Linked DNA regions of Homo sapiens: region 1 is linked to region 2. Evidence: fine-mapped expression QTL. Tissue or cell type: whole blood. Region 2 holds a variant in brackets; the other region holds the start of a gene. All regions are shown on one strand. Distances are from middle to middle.

Evidence for each region. PIP is the estimated chance that this variant, and not a neighbour inherited with it, causes the effect.
Region 1: it holds the start of CCDC59, and the variant in region 2 is fine-mapped to the expression of CCDC59 in whole blood (INTERVAL, PIP above 0.99).

What each region holds. Positions count from the first base shown.
Region 1 is chr12:82,354,944-82,363,041 of GRCh38, forward strand. It overlaps CCDC59 (coiled-coil domain containing 59), which reads right to left and starts at 3,444. Exons shown (of 4, transcript NM_014167.5): 1 at 3,280-3,444; 2 at 2,017-2,326. The coding sequence starts at 3,433. METTL25 (methyltransferase like 25) reads left to right here and starts at 3,586. Exons shown (of 12, transcript NM_032230.3): 1 at 3,586-3,881. The coding sequence starts at 3,623. RefSeq lists enhancers at 3,253-3,813, 3,324-3,883, 3,814-4,374.
Region 2 is chr12:81,780,488-81,788,598 of GRCh38, forward strand. No RefSeq gene overlaps it. Among named protein-coding and RNA genes, the nearest start is that of PPFIA2, 25 kb to the left of the region's middle. The variant C/A (reference allele first, on the strand shown) is at 4,700.

The DNA.
Region 1 (8,098 bases), 570 kb after region 2:
CATGAATCACCATACCTTGGATCTAGATACCATTTTGAACTGTTCTATCTTTAACTACTTCTCACCTCTCTGAAGATGTCCTTTTTGTCAAGGCTAATCCAACTACTTGGAATTCCATTCATTTCCTCAGCATCCTTGATTCAGTAATAACTTTACTTTCCTCTATCATTCAACTTTTCACTATACTCTGTAACTACAATATAATATTTTAATAGCTACTAATCACTAGCGACTTTGGACTAGTGACTAGTGACTGCCTAGTCCACAAATCCAGAGACCTGTCCTCAGTCCTATTCACCTTCAACTTTATAGTACAGTAGCACACCCCTTATCCATGGTTTCCCTGTTCCACGGTTTCAGTTACCTGCAGTCAACAGAGGTCCAAAAATATTAAATTGAAAAATTCCAGAAATAAACAATTCATATGTTTTAAATTGTACACCACACTGAGTGTTTGCTTTAAGTGAAAAGGTAAAAGTTCTTGACTTAATAAGGAAGGAAAAAAAATCGTATGTTGAAGTTGCTAAGATCTATGGTTTTAAAAAAAATCTTCTATACATCAAATTGTGAAGGAAAAATAAATTCATGCTAGTTTTGCTGTCATACTTCAAACTGCAAAAGTTATGGCCACAGTACGTGATTTAAGATGGAAAAGGCATTAAATTCCCAAGTAAAAGACATTAACAGAAATACATTCCAATTGACAGAAACTGGGTTTGGTACCATTTGCAGTTTCAGGGCATCCACTGGGGGTCTTGGAACATCTTCCAAACAGATAACGGGGGACCACAATATTTGATAGCTGACTAATCCCTCACAACTTTTCTCTGTGGACTGAGCTGTCACTGTATTTCTCTTTCTCCAGTCCTGAAAAGCTTAACTTCCTCAATGACAATATTTTCCCTGTTTCCACCCCAAAATAAACCGTAATCTTTAAAAGCATGATTTTTTACCTTCCTTTCTCATGATTTAAACTTCCTTACTTCAATTATCAGAGAATAACTCAAATCTACATTTCTACTGCTAATCTTTTCCCTGAACTTTATACTGATTATTTAACAATATAATGATCAAGCCTACCAAAAGTAGTAAACTTTTTGTGTCTCTGCCTTCATCCCCAATTACATTTTTACCCCCCGTGGTCCCATTTCCTGTTATTTTTAGCGCAAATAGCTCACGACTTTAAAAGATACGGTTTTAATGAAGTAAAAAATTATGCTCCCAAGTTAATACCCAGCTTCTTGCAATTTTAGATTTTAGCATTGTTTTTTAACTTTAAGTATGCAGCGATAGTTTTTTATAAGTTAACTCTTATAAAACCAAAGCGTCACGGAGCTGTGCATTTGCAATTGCAACCCATTTCTGGTCCTCTGCAGAAAATCCAGATTAATAGTAGTAGCTAACGCTCAAGAGCACTAACCACGTACCATATATACCCTTTAAGATCCTCATATACATTAACTCGCTGAGTCTTCACAACAATGTCATGAAACACCTTAGGAACACCTGAGTTTATGTGAGTAATCCATTCTGGAGCTGTGCAACATGGCAGCTCTGAAGTATATATTCATTACAGTATTATCTTTCCCAATTTAAAGAGGACATAGTGTTATTTTTCCCATTTTAAAGAAGAGGTCACTGGGGCACTAACATGTTGAGTCTGGCTCTAGAACCCATACTGTTAATGACTAAAATTATAACACCTCTCAGAAGTTATTTTTCAAAAATATAGTCATAACATATGGTCCAATCAAGTTACCACCTGTACTTGAGAGGAAGAAACCCAAATTCCAGAGCTCTTAATTCCCATTACGTTACTTTGTCAATTAGGCTAAACCAGCCTAATTCAGTTATTGAAGCTAAAAATAGAGCCTCCATGAAAATGTTTCCCTAATTAAACCGTGACTTCTAAAATGTGTTAAATAAGAAAAAATACAATTCCTATATAAATTATCCTATAGTACTTTTAAATAATAAAACAACACTTAAAGGATTTCAAATGAAGAAAATACATACTTTACTGTTTTAATACATTGTTCTTCTGGCTGAGGCTGGTCAAAGCTACACTGATCTTCAAATAAAGGCTCGTCAATGCTACACTGTTCTTCAAGCAACGGCTGGTGAACTTGTTCTGACAAAGGATGGTCGACTTTTCTTGCTTGCTTCCTATGTCTTTCCTCTTCAGCTAAATAGAGATGTTTCAGATTATCTGGGTATCGATCTGTGAATTGAGATTCCAGTGACGTTTGAGCCTTCTTTTCCTTCCGTAGCAATTTCTTGTAACTTTGCTGTATTTTCAGTTTTCTTCGAAAAGCAAAGCCTTGTCCTACATTGAGGAATATCATCCAAAATTACTTTCAGAGAAAAGAAGTTGAACGAAGAATGGAGCTGTTAATTACAAATGAAAACTTTTTTTACGTCATCACATTCAGATTCTAGTATTATATTTTGCTTTAAAAAATTATTTCAAGCAACAAATTTAAGCTGATGGATTGCATAGTAAGTTGGCCCTTTGCAAAAAGACCAGGCTAACAGTCATGCGGAAATCCAAGTAAGAATCTCAAAGAAAAACTGACCAGTTCAGACTGTTGCACAACTTGAGTTTACAGCTGTATTCACAAATCAAAACAAATTCCTTAGTTCATCTAAAACACTTAATCTGAGCCTTCAATAAATGCTTAAAAAATAGGAAAGAAAATGCCACATCTAGTATCTTGGACAAACTACATGTTTTCGAAAATGTTTCAACACGAAAGAAAAAGACAGTGTATGGTTGTCTGAAAAGCTAGCAATTATCGGAAGACTGAATTTAACATTTATATATTCCAAGTGGGATCTAAGAGACCTTACAGACAGCAATACAAAATGACAAACACAAATTAAAGCGAAGGCTGGAGGGCCTCGGGTATTTGTAATAAGGAAGAATTCGGAGCAGTGTTTCTGGCCCTGTCCTCCTCTCTATCCTTTACCTTACCACATGCGCAAGAGTTCACAGGGTCATAGACTCTCTCTGCTCAGTTTCTCAGGAAAAATATAGGAAAAAAGTTCTGATGAAATACAGGGTTACGTCAGAAAAGACGTTTAAATAATAGCAACACTGCTCCGTCTTCCTATCTAGAGCTCTGCGAAGCTCACAGCTTTAGCGGGCTCAGGAATGAATTCCCTTGCCCCAAGTAGGACCGGGTCTGGTTCCTAAATCCTTCTTCCAAGCTTCAGCGAATCTTATATCCTAAAACTTAGCAAGCCTGAGGATTTGCAAATGGTTGCCTTCTTACATACCCTCGCGAACGCTCCCCACGAAGGCTTGCGGGTGGTTAGGCCGCCATGTCTTCTGTCTCACATTCTTATTCCTGTACCCGACAGTGGAAACCCCTTCACCACGCGCCTCAATACCACCAGGCCGCCACTTCGCGGACCGCCTCACCGGCGCCATTGCAGCCGACTAACTGCGTCATCAGAAGACCACGACGGACGCCCACAAAATACGTCACCAAGCCGAAGCAATCAATCGCTCAGAAGGAATCCGGCTCGGAGCTCTACTGAGCCTGCCTGTGCTAATTTGGGCCGAGCTGGCGCCTCACGGCCATGTTTGCGCCACCTACAGCCTCGGAGGGTGAGCGTCATGGCGGCTTCTTGCCCTCTCCCGGTGACCCCGGACCTGCCCACGCTGCGTGCCAAGTTGCAGGGACTGCTGCAGTTCCTGAGGGATGCCCTGTCCATTTCCAATGCACATACCGTGGATTTCTACACAGAATCCGTGTGGGAGGAGCTGGTCGACTTGCCACCGGAGACAGTGCTGGCTGCGCTGAGGAAGTCAGCGTCGGAGACGGAGGCCCTGCCCTCAGAGACGCGCCCCCTAGTGGAAGCAGAGTGGGAAGCAGGTGGGTGGTGGGGTAGGCGGGGCGGGAAGGGAGGCGGAGGAGAAGGTCCCGGCAGACGAAGCGAGCCCCCTGGTGGAAGCCAGCAGAACCAGGTGCGTGGCGGCGGAGGCGGGGCGGCCCGCTGGGAAACCGAGGAGGGGTCGGATTAGTTGAGGGGTGGGGTGGGGATGTTCTTTGGAATCAGGATCACTCTTTCTTTGGGTGCTTGTGTATGTCCACAATTTAAAGAAAGCAGGAAACAGGGCAGGGGAGTTCCTTCATCTAGTAATTCCATAATAATTGACGCTAGGGAAACTAGGGGAGCAGTGCTCTCACAGGTTTTATAAATGCCAGCATGTGGTGGAAGATTACTCAACAGTTAATAAAGATAATTTCAAGTGGTGGTAATGAAGTAGAAAATAAAAACAGTGTAATGTGGTAGGGATTGTGTAAGGAGGCTGCCTCAATTTAGGAGGTCAGGAACATGAGAAGGCACTAGCTGCAGAGCCACAGGGAGGGGTTGCAGGCGGTGGGAACCGCAGGCTAGGCTTGGCTCTAGCCAGGTGAGGGGCTGCAGGTGCAGGACGGGAGGCAAGCAGAGGCCAGATGGCACAGGCCTTTCTAGGCCTTGGAAGGATTTTGGATTTTAAGTGTGACGGAAACCCTTGGGATTATTTAGGCAACATAGTGACCTAATTCACATTTGAAAAGATAACTGTGAATTATTTGAAGAATAGACTAGGGCAAAAGCTGAAGCTGAGAGGCCAGTTAGGAGACTACCTCAGTAGTACAACAGATGATTGTATCTTGGACTAGGATGGTATTCGGATAGTCACTATTTCATTTAAAAACTATTTTAAAGTACCTAATATGTGTCTTGAATTTTTGTAGGCTCAAGCTTTTCCTACCCTCAAGAAATGTAGATTCTTCTCAGGCAAGCATATTTTGGAAGTAGAATGATGGACACCAACAGGCTTCTGGGATTTTTACTTTCCTTCTAGACTTCCCAAAGTTACCCTTACTAGTGAACTTTATTCATTGAGCATTCTCTGAATGCAAAGCATCACTAGAGGGACCTCTTATAATAGCACTTGGTAAATACTGTTGTTGTTTTTTTAAGTAATTGTTATTGAAAAGTTAGGCACTTCTTCAGTTTGCTCTCATAATAAATATATGGCACTTATGATATGACAATTTTACTTAAACTCCAAAAGAGCAGAGTCTTTGTCTGACTTGTCAACTGATGTATTCCCAGCACTTGGTAAAATACTTGGCATACATTAGATACTGGATGAATATTTGTTGAATGGAGGAATTAATGAGTTACTCATGTTAGTTTTAAATAAATAAAATGAAACTACTCTCAAGTTTAGAGTGTAAGACTTTAATACGTGTTTAGCCTGGTCTCCAGACAATGGTAGAGTCAGATTGTCTTACATATTCTAATAATAATTGGATTATTTGATATTTACTATATACCCTGTAGTGTGCTAAGTGTCTTCATGTGTATTTTCTCTTTTAATCTTTACATCAGCCTTGCAAGATAGGTTCTGTTATTGTCGATTTGTGGAATTATAACTTGAGGAGTTAATTTGCAAGGGATATAGCTGATAATGGAAGATTCTCAAACCTGGGTCATCTGATTTGAAACTTTTTTAGTGCTGTAAGAAAAAAAGTATACTAGATAAGGGAGGAGTAAGTAAGGGGAAGAAGAGGAAAATGTTTGCATTTTTAAGTAAGTTGTCCTGGCAAGACCTCACTGAGGTGACTCTAACGCTGAAAAGATAAGAAAAAAACCGAGCCATGAAGATCTCTGGAGGGAAAGCAGTCCATTTAGTGACAACAGGAAACAGAAATGCCCTGACGAGGGAGCCTACAAGGTATGTTTAAGGAGCTGTAAGGAGACTGAAATAGATTTCCACTAGGGACTCACAAGGAGTATGGTCTTGTGTCCGGAATTGTTAGGTTCTTGGTCTCACTGACTTCAAGAATGAAGCCACAGACCCTCTCAGTGAGTATTATAGTTCTTAAAGGCGGCGTGTCCAGAGTTTGTTCCTTCTGATGTTTGGATGTGTTCGGAGTTTCTTCCTTCTGGCGGGTTCGTGGTCTCGCTGGCTTCAGGAGTGAAGCTGCAGACCTTTGCGGTGAGTGTTACAGCTCACAAACGCAGTGTGGACCCAAAGAGAGAGCAGCAGCAAGATTTATCACAAGGAGTGAAAGAACAAAGCTTCCACAGGGTTGTCGCTGCTGGCGCCAGCAGTCTGCTTTTATTCTCTTATCTGACCCCACCCACATCCTGCCGATTGGTCCATTTTACAGAGAGCTGATTGGTCCATTTTGACAGGGTGCTGATTGGTGCATTTACAATCCCTGAGCTAGACATGAAAGTTCTCCTAGTCCCCACTAGATCAGCTATACACAGAGCACTGATTGGTGCATTTACAAACCTTGAGCTAGACACAGGGTGCTGATTGGTGTATTTACAATCCCTTAGCTAGACATAAAGTTTATCCAAGTCCCCACTAGACTCAGGAGCCCAGCTGGCTTCACCTAGTGGATCCCACGTTGGGGCTGCAGGTGGAGCTGCCCACCAGTCCCATGCCGTGCGCCCGCACTCCTCAGCCCTTGGGCGGTCGATGGGACCAGGCACTGTGAAGCAGGAGGCGGTGCTCGTTGGGGAGGCTTGGGCTACGCAGGAGCCCACGGTGGGGGGGAGGGGGACTCAGGCATGGCGGGCTGCAGGTCTTGAGCCCTGCCCCGCAGGGAGGCAGCTGAGGCCCGGTGAGAATTCAAGAGCAGCGCTGGTGGGCCGGCACTGCTGGGGGACTTGGTGCATCCTCCGCAGCTGCTGTCCTGGGTGCTAAGCTCCTCACTGCCTGGGGCCAGCGGTGCTGGCCGGCTGCTCTGAGTGCTGGGCCTGCCAAGCCCACAACCACCCGGAACTCGCGCTGGCCAGCAAGCGTGGCGCGCAGCCCTGGTTCCCACCCGTGCCTCTCCCTCCACACCTCCCTGCAAGCTGAGAGAGCCAGCTCCAGCCTCGGCCAGCCTAGAGAAGGGCTCCCACAGTGCAGTGGTGGGCTGAAGGACTCCTCAAGCGTGGCCAGAGTGGGCGCCAAGGCTGAGGAGGCGCCAAGAGCGAGTGAGGGCTGCCGGCACGCTGTCACCTCTCAGTCTTCTGCTGATATTTTGTGAGGAGTTACAAGTAAACATAATTCCCAGAGCGCAATGCACAGTTTGGAAAAGCACACTAACAGATGTTCGGCACAATCATTTGGTGTTTTATGGAACAAAGTTTTTTCTAAAAGTCCTCAGTGTGTCCATTTCAGTAGGTTTCATGTGCCAGGTGATCTTCTTGTCTCATTAGAGTCCTAAGAGTTTCTTCTTCATTGTTCGTCTAAAAAGAACTAGAATAAAATATTTAATTCTCTAAAATAAAAAGCAAATATGTTAGAAATAACTATCTTTTCAGTGCATAAATTATGGCTTTCCAGACAGACTTCCTGGGGTCAAATATTGACTCCAGCACTTAGTAGCTGTGCTAACTTGGGCAATTTACTTCAACTCGTTGTACATTAGTTCCTCATCTGTAAAATGGGGGTAACTTTAGTACCTGCCTGATGGGATACTGTGAAAGGTAATTCAGCTAATATATAGAAAGGGATATCTTTCACGTGAAGTGAACAGCAGGTGCCCAAGCTGGAGCACGCTTGGTGCATTTTAAACACAGCTGAGCAGTCTTGGTGAGACCGGTGAGAGATGGCATTTGGAGGTAGCCCAGGACATCCTCACATAAAACTTGTAGGCTGTACTCAGTATTTGGCTTTTATTCTGAGTGAAATGCGAAGCTCTTTGAGAATTTTGTGTGGTGATGTGATACCGTGTGATTTATGTTTCAAATCACCTGGTTTCTGTGTGGAGAAGAGAAGGTAAGAAAGGTGAAGGAAATTAAGGGAAGAAACAGGAATACAATATAAGAGGCTATTAAAATAGTCCAGGGACATTTCAAGGAACAGTAGCTTGAAGAGGTCAGATTCCCCTGCAGATAACAATGATGAAAACTGGCCAGATTATTAAAAACAACTGTAAGATTCTGGAAAATGCCAAAGGCAGAAATATAAGAAGAGGTTACTATTGAAAGACTGTGATTGATTGGGTAGGAAGTCAGAGTTTATGGCTTTCTTGCTAGAGATGCTCCTAGCCCCTGTAGATCTAGCAGTGGAATACCACATCCTTACCAG
Region 2 (8,111 bases):
TAATTATTAGAGAAATGCAAATGAAAACTACAATGAGATATCATATACCAGTCAGAATGGCTACTAACAAAAAGTTTAAAAAATAGCAAATGCCTGTGAGGTTGCAGAGGAAAGGGAACACACACACTGCTGGTGGGAGTGTAAATTAGTTTGGTCACTGTGGAAAGCAATGTGGAGATTCCTCAAAAAAAACTTAGAACTACCATTCTACCCAGGAATCCCATTGCTGAGTATATATCCAAAGGAAAATACATCATTCTAACAAAAAGACACATGTGCTGATATGTTTGCTGCTGCACTATGCACAATAGCAAAGACATGGAATCAACCTAGATGCCCATCAACGGTGAACTGGATACAGAAAACTTGGCACATATACACCATGAAATACTATGCAGCCATAAAAAGCAATGAAATTATGTCTTTCGCAGTGACATGGATACAGCTGAAGGCCCTTATTTTAAGTGAACTAACACAGGAACAGAAAACCAAATACTGTTATCTTCTCACTCATACGTGGGAGCTAAACACTGAATACACATAGACACCAAGATGGAAACAACAGACACTGGGAACTACTTGAGTGGGGAGGGTGGAACAAGGCATGGGTTGAAAAACCACCTATCAGGTACTATGCTCACTACTGGGGTGACAGGATTATTCATGTGCCTCAGAGACACACAATCTCAGAGACACACAATTTACCCACATGAAAAATCTGCACACCTACCCCAAACTTAAAATAAATGTCAAAAGAAAAAAAATAAGAAAATATAGATGATCTAGGAAAAGGTTTTGCTTAAAAGCTAATTGGTATGAAATGTTTAATATAAACATTACCCAAATGACAAGAATTTGTGAGAACATTTAGCTTGCAAAGAGCAAATTAAGTTATGAAAACTACAACACAAATGTTATCTTGCTGCTTCACTTTTTACCATGTCTTATGAAACCTTTTCAAAGGACTTTAAAATAAACATGTTAGAAATAAAAAAAGAGAGAAAACCAAACTTTACCCTTGGTAAAATTTATTAATTTAACATTTATTAATGTTAAAGCTTATCTTAATAAAACCTTATTGTAAAATATCCTTGCTTTTGATTCAGCTTGAATCTTTGATATTTTTCCCATTGGTTTGCCTTCTTTATTGTCTTTGTACATAGCAACCTGACAATATCTACCACAGATATATAAATTGCAGGTCCATTGATTGCAGCTATCCTTTTTATACCACATTTTAGGGACCATATTATTTTAACAATAAATATTCTAACCTTAAATATCTATCACAGATATATAAATTACAGGTCCATTGATTGTAGCTATCCCTTTTATACCGCATTTTAGCAATAAATTATCATCAAGGAATTCAAGCGAAGTGATCTCTGCCCCTGACTAGCAATAATAGTTGTAATAGTTGTAATCACAATATTTAAGCACCAGTACTGACAGTTTGCCCTAATGTGTCATCATGTAATTCATTCTTCAAAATAAACAATGCTTCAAATTAGAGGTATTGCTTTGGTATAGGAATCTATATTACCTTTTGTAAATAAAAAAAATATTTTTAAACCCATACTCACATAAAGTTCAGCTATCTTCGTTTTGTATTATATTCTATCATTTCACATTCAAATTATCTTGATATCAAAAAGTCCTGCTGTTTTGCCTTTCCCCACTAGAATAGGGAACTAACAATAGAAATGTTCAATGATAAAACCATGGTTACATTAGAAGAAGTTTTTTATGCGTTAGTCAGAGATTCTATTAATTTGTGTTATGTCCTTCGTTCAAAGCATATTCCAGTATTTTAAAGGAGCCGCTAATCTTGGGGTAGAAATAATAAGTGAGAGGGTTTCAGAATATCAACTACTTATATTAAACAATATTGGAGCTTCCTAAGTAAAATAGAAATAAATAAAATATACTCTTTCATTTAACACATGTAAAATAGTAGCTTCCCAAGTAAAACTTATCACTTCAGTCTGATAGCACAAAAGAAAAACATTTCTCACAAATACAGAGAAATCTTTCTTCATATTCATAAGAAAATAAACAGTTTAAAAATACCAAAACCTTATATTTTCTAAACATAAAGCACATTTAGTAATTTTATTTGATGATATAAGTTTCAGACTTTTGACATTGCTCATTAGCTACAAGGAAGAGTTATATTATTTATGTACGAAATTCAACTAAAAATAGTTGTAAATGTATATACTATTTTAGTTATATGTATATAAATAAATGAATTGAAATTTAATGAGATATAGATAGGTATATTCATATGCATAATAGAAGATAGATACATAGAAATAGATATGGACACATATTTTATTTTGAAGGTAATGTATTGGATTTTAAAAAACAATGGCTTAATGTGTAGCGTTCCTTGACATCAGAGAGAATTGTGTAGATAGGCCTGTTTTACAGGAAATGAAAATCATCTGCCCACTCTAACCTTAGTGGCCCAGCAGGGAGTGGGGAGAGCAGAGAACCCTAGCTCATCTTCCTCTTCCACTCAACAAGAGGGCAGAGGTCAAGAAAACTTATGGGTCCAGAGGTCAAGAAATCTTATTTACAAGTCTAGGTAGCACAAAACTTGGTGGAGAGAGACGGGAGTGGATCTGGAGAGGCAAACTGACATCAAAAAATTCTCCTTATACCACATCTTTTTAAAAACTTGAAGAATATTAATTATATTTTAAAACCTTAATTTTTAAAGTAGTTTCTTATGAATGGTCATTAACTTGTTTTTGGTGTTAACAAAGGTCCATGAGATCTGTGGAAGGAAAAGGGAGAGCTTTATTTTCCATTAAAAAAAAATCTGCAGACTGGGGAGACAGAGCCTTCAGCACAAGTGAAAATGTAAATGAACAAAGAAAGGATCTGGCTTAAATAGGAAAAGTTCTCACCTAAGTACTTTACCAGGTTCATTTATGCAAATGAAGGATTCAAACCTTTCAATTCTGATTGGTCAAAATAGTTAAGCCCTAATTGAGTTGTTTCTAAGCCCCAAACCAGAAGTTTCTGTCAGGTACTTATTTCAAATGGTCAGTGAGGTGTGTTTCTGGCCTGAGTTTATCTTGTCTCTGGTTACAAGAACTCTTCTGACTCTGCAAGGTAAAGCAGAATGTTTGTCAAGAGCCGCTTTTGCTAGGAACCCAAGTATATGCCAGGACTCTATCTCTTCCTGCTCTGCTACCTGTTTATGCTTTTAAATTTAGAGCATCTTTATTAGCCACAGGGAGTCTCTCTGATCTGGGGAGGTTTGGGTCTTATTTTACAGTTTTATTTCACATTAGTTTGACTATTGTAAGTACTGGCTACCTGTATGCATCTGTTCTTCCTCACTTGTCTATGTAATAGATTTCTACAAGCAGGATTTCTAGTTAAAAAAAAATAGTTTCGACTGGGTGCAGTGGCTCACGCCTGTAATCCCAGCACTTTGGGAGGCTGAGGAGGGCAGATCACTTGAGGTCAGGAGTTCAAAACCCAGCCTGGCCAATATGGTGAAATCCTGTCTCTTGCTAAAAGATACAAAATTAGCCGGGCATGGTGGTGCAGGCCTGTAGTCCCAGCTACTTGGGAGGCTGAGGCAGGAGAATCGCCTGAACCTGGGAGGCAGAGGTTGCAGTGAGCTGAGATCACACCACTGCATGCCAGCCTGGGTGACAGAGTGAGACTCCGTCTCAAAAAAAGAAAAAGAAAAAAAAAAAGAAATAGTTTCAATATTTGCTGCCTTATCGATTACCAAAGGTGTTCAATCTTGTTATATTAAAACCAAATATTTGAGAGTTTCTGTTTTACTTAGCAGTTGTCCACACTGATGTTTTCAACTTTTTTCAATGTGTCATTTAACATAACTATATATTCATAGATTTATTGGTTATTGGCATGTCATTTTCTTATGTTAATCATTAGATAAGTCTTTTCACAGACTTGTATCACTTTATTTTCTTTTTGTATTACATAAACATATAATGTATTTTTTTAATTTTATAAAAGTAGGATCATATTATATTATTATTCTACAATTCTGACTTATTTGCACAATAACCTGTCTTGTTCTTCTGCCCATATTAAGATGTATGGATTTCCCATATTCTTTCTATATATTAAATGATATCCCAATATATTGTATCAAGAACAAAGCCATTAAATCTATTTTGTGTAACACATTAAATATATTTAATGACTTTGTTCTGGATAGAATATATTGGAGTATTATTTATGCAAATCATTATTTGCATAAATTTCAATATATATTTGGGATTTATGCAAATGAAGGATTCAAACTTATTCAGTTCTGATTGGTCAAAATAGTATAGAAACAAAACATATATGTAACAAAATAATGCCTCCATTCTTGCTAGGATATAGAACATTTTCAGTTATAAACAATCCCGAAATAGTCATTTTTACACATATATCTGTTTTACAGTGTTTGAATTTTTCCATCGAGTTATTAGTCTCTTTCTTAATTTGTATGAGAGTTTTGGCATAATAAGGAAGCTGACCCTCATCTGTCTTATGTATTGCATATATTTTTATTTGTTTGTTATTTGCCTTTTGCCTTTTTCCAGAGTATTTTAAGTTGTTATGTAAATATATTTATCAGTCTTTACTTGAGGGTTCCTGTATTTTATGTCACGCTTATCAAAAACCTACCCATCATTTTGTGTAGTTCTTTTCCCAG[C/A]TTTTCCCAGTAGTTTTCTTGTAGGCATGTGCTGATGAGTATTCTCTTGAATACTCCAGGGGAATCCACCGTAGAACCCTCTCCTGTCGGGTGTCTGACCTGCCGGACTCCATCCACCTCAACTTAGGGAACATGCCAGGCTCTACTTAGTACCCTGTCTTTGTGCAGCACAGCGCAAAAACTCTATCAAGGCAATAAGTTGGGGAAGAACGTATCTTATTTATCTCACAACTTTTAGGGATCTTTGTGCTTCCTTGATTAATGTCCAGTGTTTTGAATACCATTGTTTTATAGATTTTGTATGTTTATTTTTTAGTGGTTAGGGTGGGAAGGTACATCTAGTCTCATAACTTCATCTTGACCAGAGCAGAAATCTACATGGATTTTTGACTTTGGTTATTATTTTATAGAGATTTGCTCATTTTGATGTTGATTTCCTCTCTGAACCAACAGATCTCAACCCCCTATGTTGTTGATTTTATACTTTACATGATTCTATTTATATTTTTATATATTTTATTACATATTAAAAATATATGCATATAAATATTCACACACACTCTGGTTGGAGTACAGATTTTGTACAATTATTTCTGTTTTTTTAAAAGTTTTTGAAAACTTTTCACAACTCAGTTATAGGCATTGTATATTTCACTTCCTGCAGTGAAATATGTGGGAAATCAGCAATGTAGACTCTGGAATCAAGCTTATCAAGGCATATTTTGAAGCTAGTACTTTGAAGAGATTTCCAAATATCATAGAGCTCTCTGAGCTTCATCCTTCTCCCCAAATTCTGTCTTTTCTACTCCAGTTCTTTGTTGTACTCTCAAATTTTCTTTATAGGTGGAGTTCTTTCCTGAAACTCTAACCACATGGCTGGTATCCAGACACTTTGTCTAGTATTTTCAGTTCTATTCTCCTAGAGTGGCTCCTGATCCCTGACACCAGCAGCTCTTTGTGCTGCAGGGAATTAGATGGCCCTAGGAGCCACAAAATGACCCTTGCCTGGTGTGTAAAGATTGCTATGGACCAGAAATTCCTGTTGACAAGCTCTGCCCTTTGGAAGCCATCACCATTCCCAGTCACTTTCGGTTCACAAGCACCCTTCATTCCTCATCTCCTCTTAGGATAGATGTTCTCCTCTATACCAATTAATTTTCCTGTATACTCCACACTCGAGTTCATCTAAGATAGGACATTTCTCTTAATATAGTGTAGAATGGAAGAATTAATTATTCTGTAACACAAGTTATACTATCTTTCGAGTTACTTTTTTGCCTTTACCTTTATTGTGTGAAAAGTCAGCACTGACAAACAAAAATATGCTTTGAGAATATTTGTTTTGTTTCACTACAAAAGCAATTATTTAGCTCTGTGCTAAGTCACTGAGTCATTCTGTAATTAGGATTTTCAAAACCAAATTAAATGTTTTTGAACCAAAAAAGGATCAGCTACAATTCATATGTTACATAGCACCTAGTCTATTATAAGGATAATAAAACCATCACGTTGGTTAATTAGCATTTTTATTAGAATATTCTACTTTAATTTTAAAGACATATTTGCTCACAAAAAGACTTTGGGGCTGGGATGTGTAGGTGTATCATTATAAAACTTTATGACAAATCAAAATAAAATTTTACAGTTTTATAAAACCCTTCTTTTATGTTTGCTCTCCTAATTGTCACAAGTTTTGATAAATAGAATCACTCTAGTGATCTAGAAAAATCAATAAAAATATATTTGCATAGGGCTTTACAGTTTACAAAGAGCTTGCTGCGCACATGGATAATTAGTATATAAGAAAAGGCCTAAAACAAAGAAAAATTATTCTCCTTTAGTTTTTGTCATTTTTTTGGAGTTATTTTTAGTAATTAAACTGAAATAACACATTAAAATATTTCAGTTTAATTAAAAGACATGTATAAATTCAAAAGCCATCTTTATTCTTAATATGTGTGCAGATATAGTATCTTTCACGTCCGTTATTTCACTGCATTAGAAAAATATTAGTTTCTGTGCACAATGTTTTTCACAACTATGAAGTGAACCATATTTTATGGTTATATCTATATAAGTATAAACATAAGTTAAATTATTGTGATTCTATCTAAAGGGAAGTAAACTCTTTCATTAAAAATGTTTGGACATATTAGGTAAATAATGCCTTTAAATAGAATGTATCACCAATAGTCATGGAGAATCGGATGGCTAGTCTATGAAATTTTTTCTCTTGTTAATGTACTGAAAGTTGTATCTCATTCAGTTTCACTTGAAGAAAAGACATGGACTAGTGTTTGTATTGTTACACAATGAGAAAGTCACAATTCTTTTTTTTTTTTTTTTTTTTAAGACAGGGTCTGTCTCCATCACCCAGGCTGGAGTGCAGTGGCTCAATCAGCTCACTGCAACCTTGGCTTCCCAGGTTCAAGCAATTCTCCTGCCCCAGCACAGGCAGGCATTTGCCACCATGCCTGTCTAATATGTCACATTTCTAAAATGGAATATAGAGGATTTTTTTGTTTTTAGGTTTTCACTAGAGTCATCACATTATGTACCTTAATAATAAAGAAACCTTGCCTTTATCTGCTGTGGCATATAAACATATTGACTTCAGTAGTAGGCATAAGTAATGGACAGACAGAATGACACAGTCAACTGTAGACAATAAAATAAACCTTTGTGGAGTTACACTGCTGTATAAAAGATGAAGTAATGACAGAATGAAATTAAAGTTTTTAAACAGATTATTTTTTCATTTCATATCTATATATCCAGTTTTATGGGTTTTCAAATATAAAACAAATTCAAGCTAAATTGACTTTCAAAAGTTCTCATTCAGAAACTGTAAAAATTGTTAGAATATTAGATTCTATAAAAATACTTGGGTGCAAATTTTATAGAGATTCAGAATTATAAATGAAAGCTTATTATTTTGTGCCAGAATTGTATTTATCTGAACACTTTAATAACATCTTGGTTACAGGTTCCATGAATATTTTGCATCTCCAACAATGATCACTTAAATTCCACTTGAAAATTCTAACCTAATTATAGCAGCATTTCATAAAACTTAAAACCCATTACTACGATGATCAACTTTTCATTTATTTAATGCATTTTGTAATGAAATTCCCTTCAAATTACTGAAGGTTTGCCTTCATAACTTATTATTTTATCCCCTCTTAATAAGTTTTCTTTTCTGTTGTTTCTCATTCACTTTAGCTTGCTTCACACATGTATAAATGTATTCTTTACAGAGTATTTACAATTGAGTATCACATCAGCTTCACATATATGCCGGTTCTCTGGAGCTCTTTTCCTGTTTTGTTGATTTTTCTCAACCTCTATTTTTATTATCAACCTCTCCTCTTCTTTTGACTCATTATTACAAATATGTAAACGTACTCAA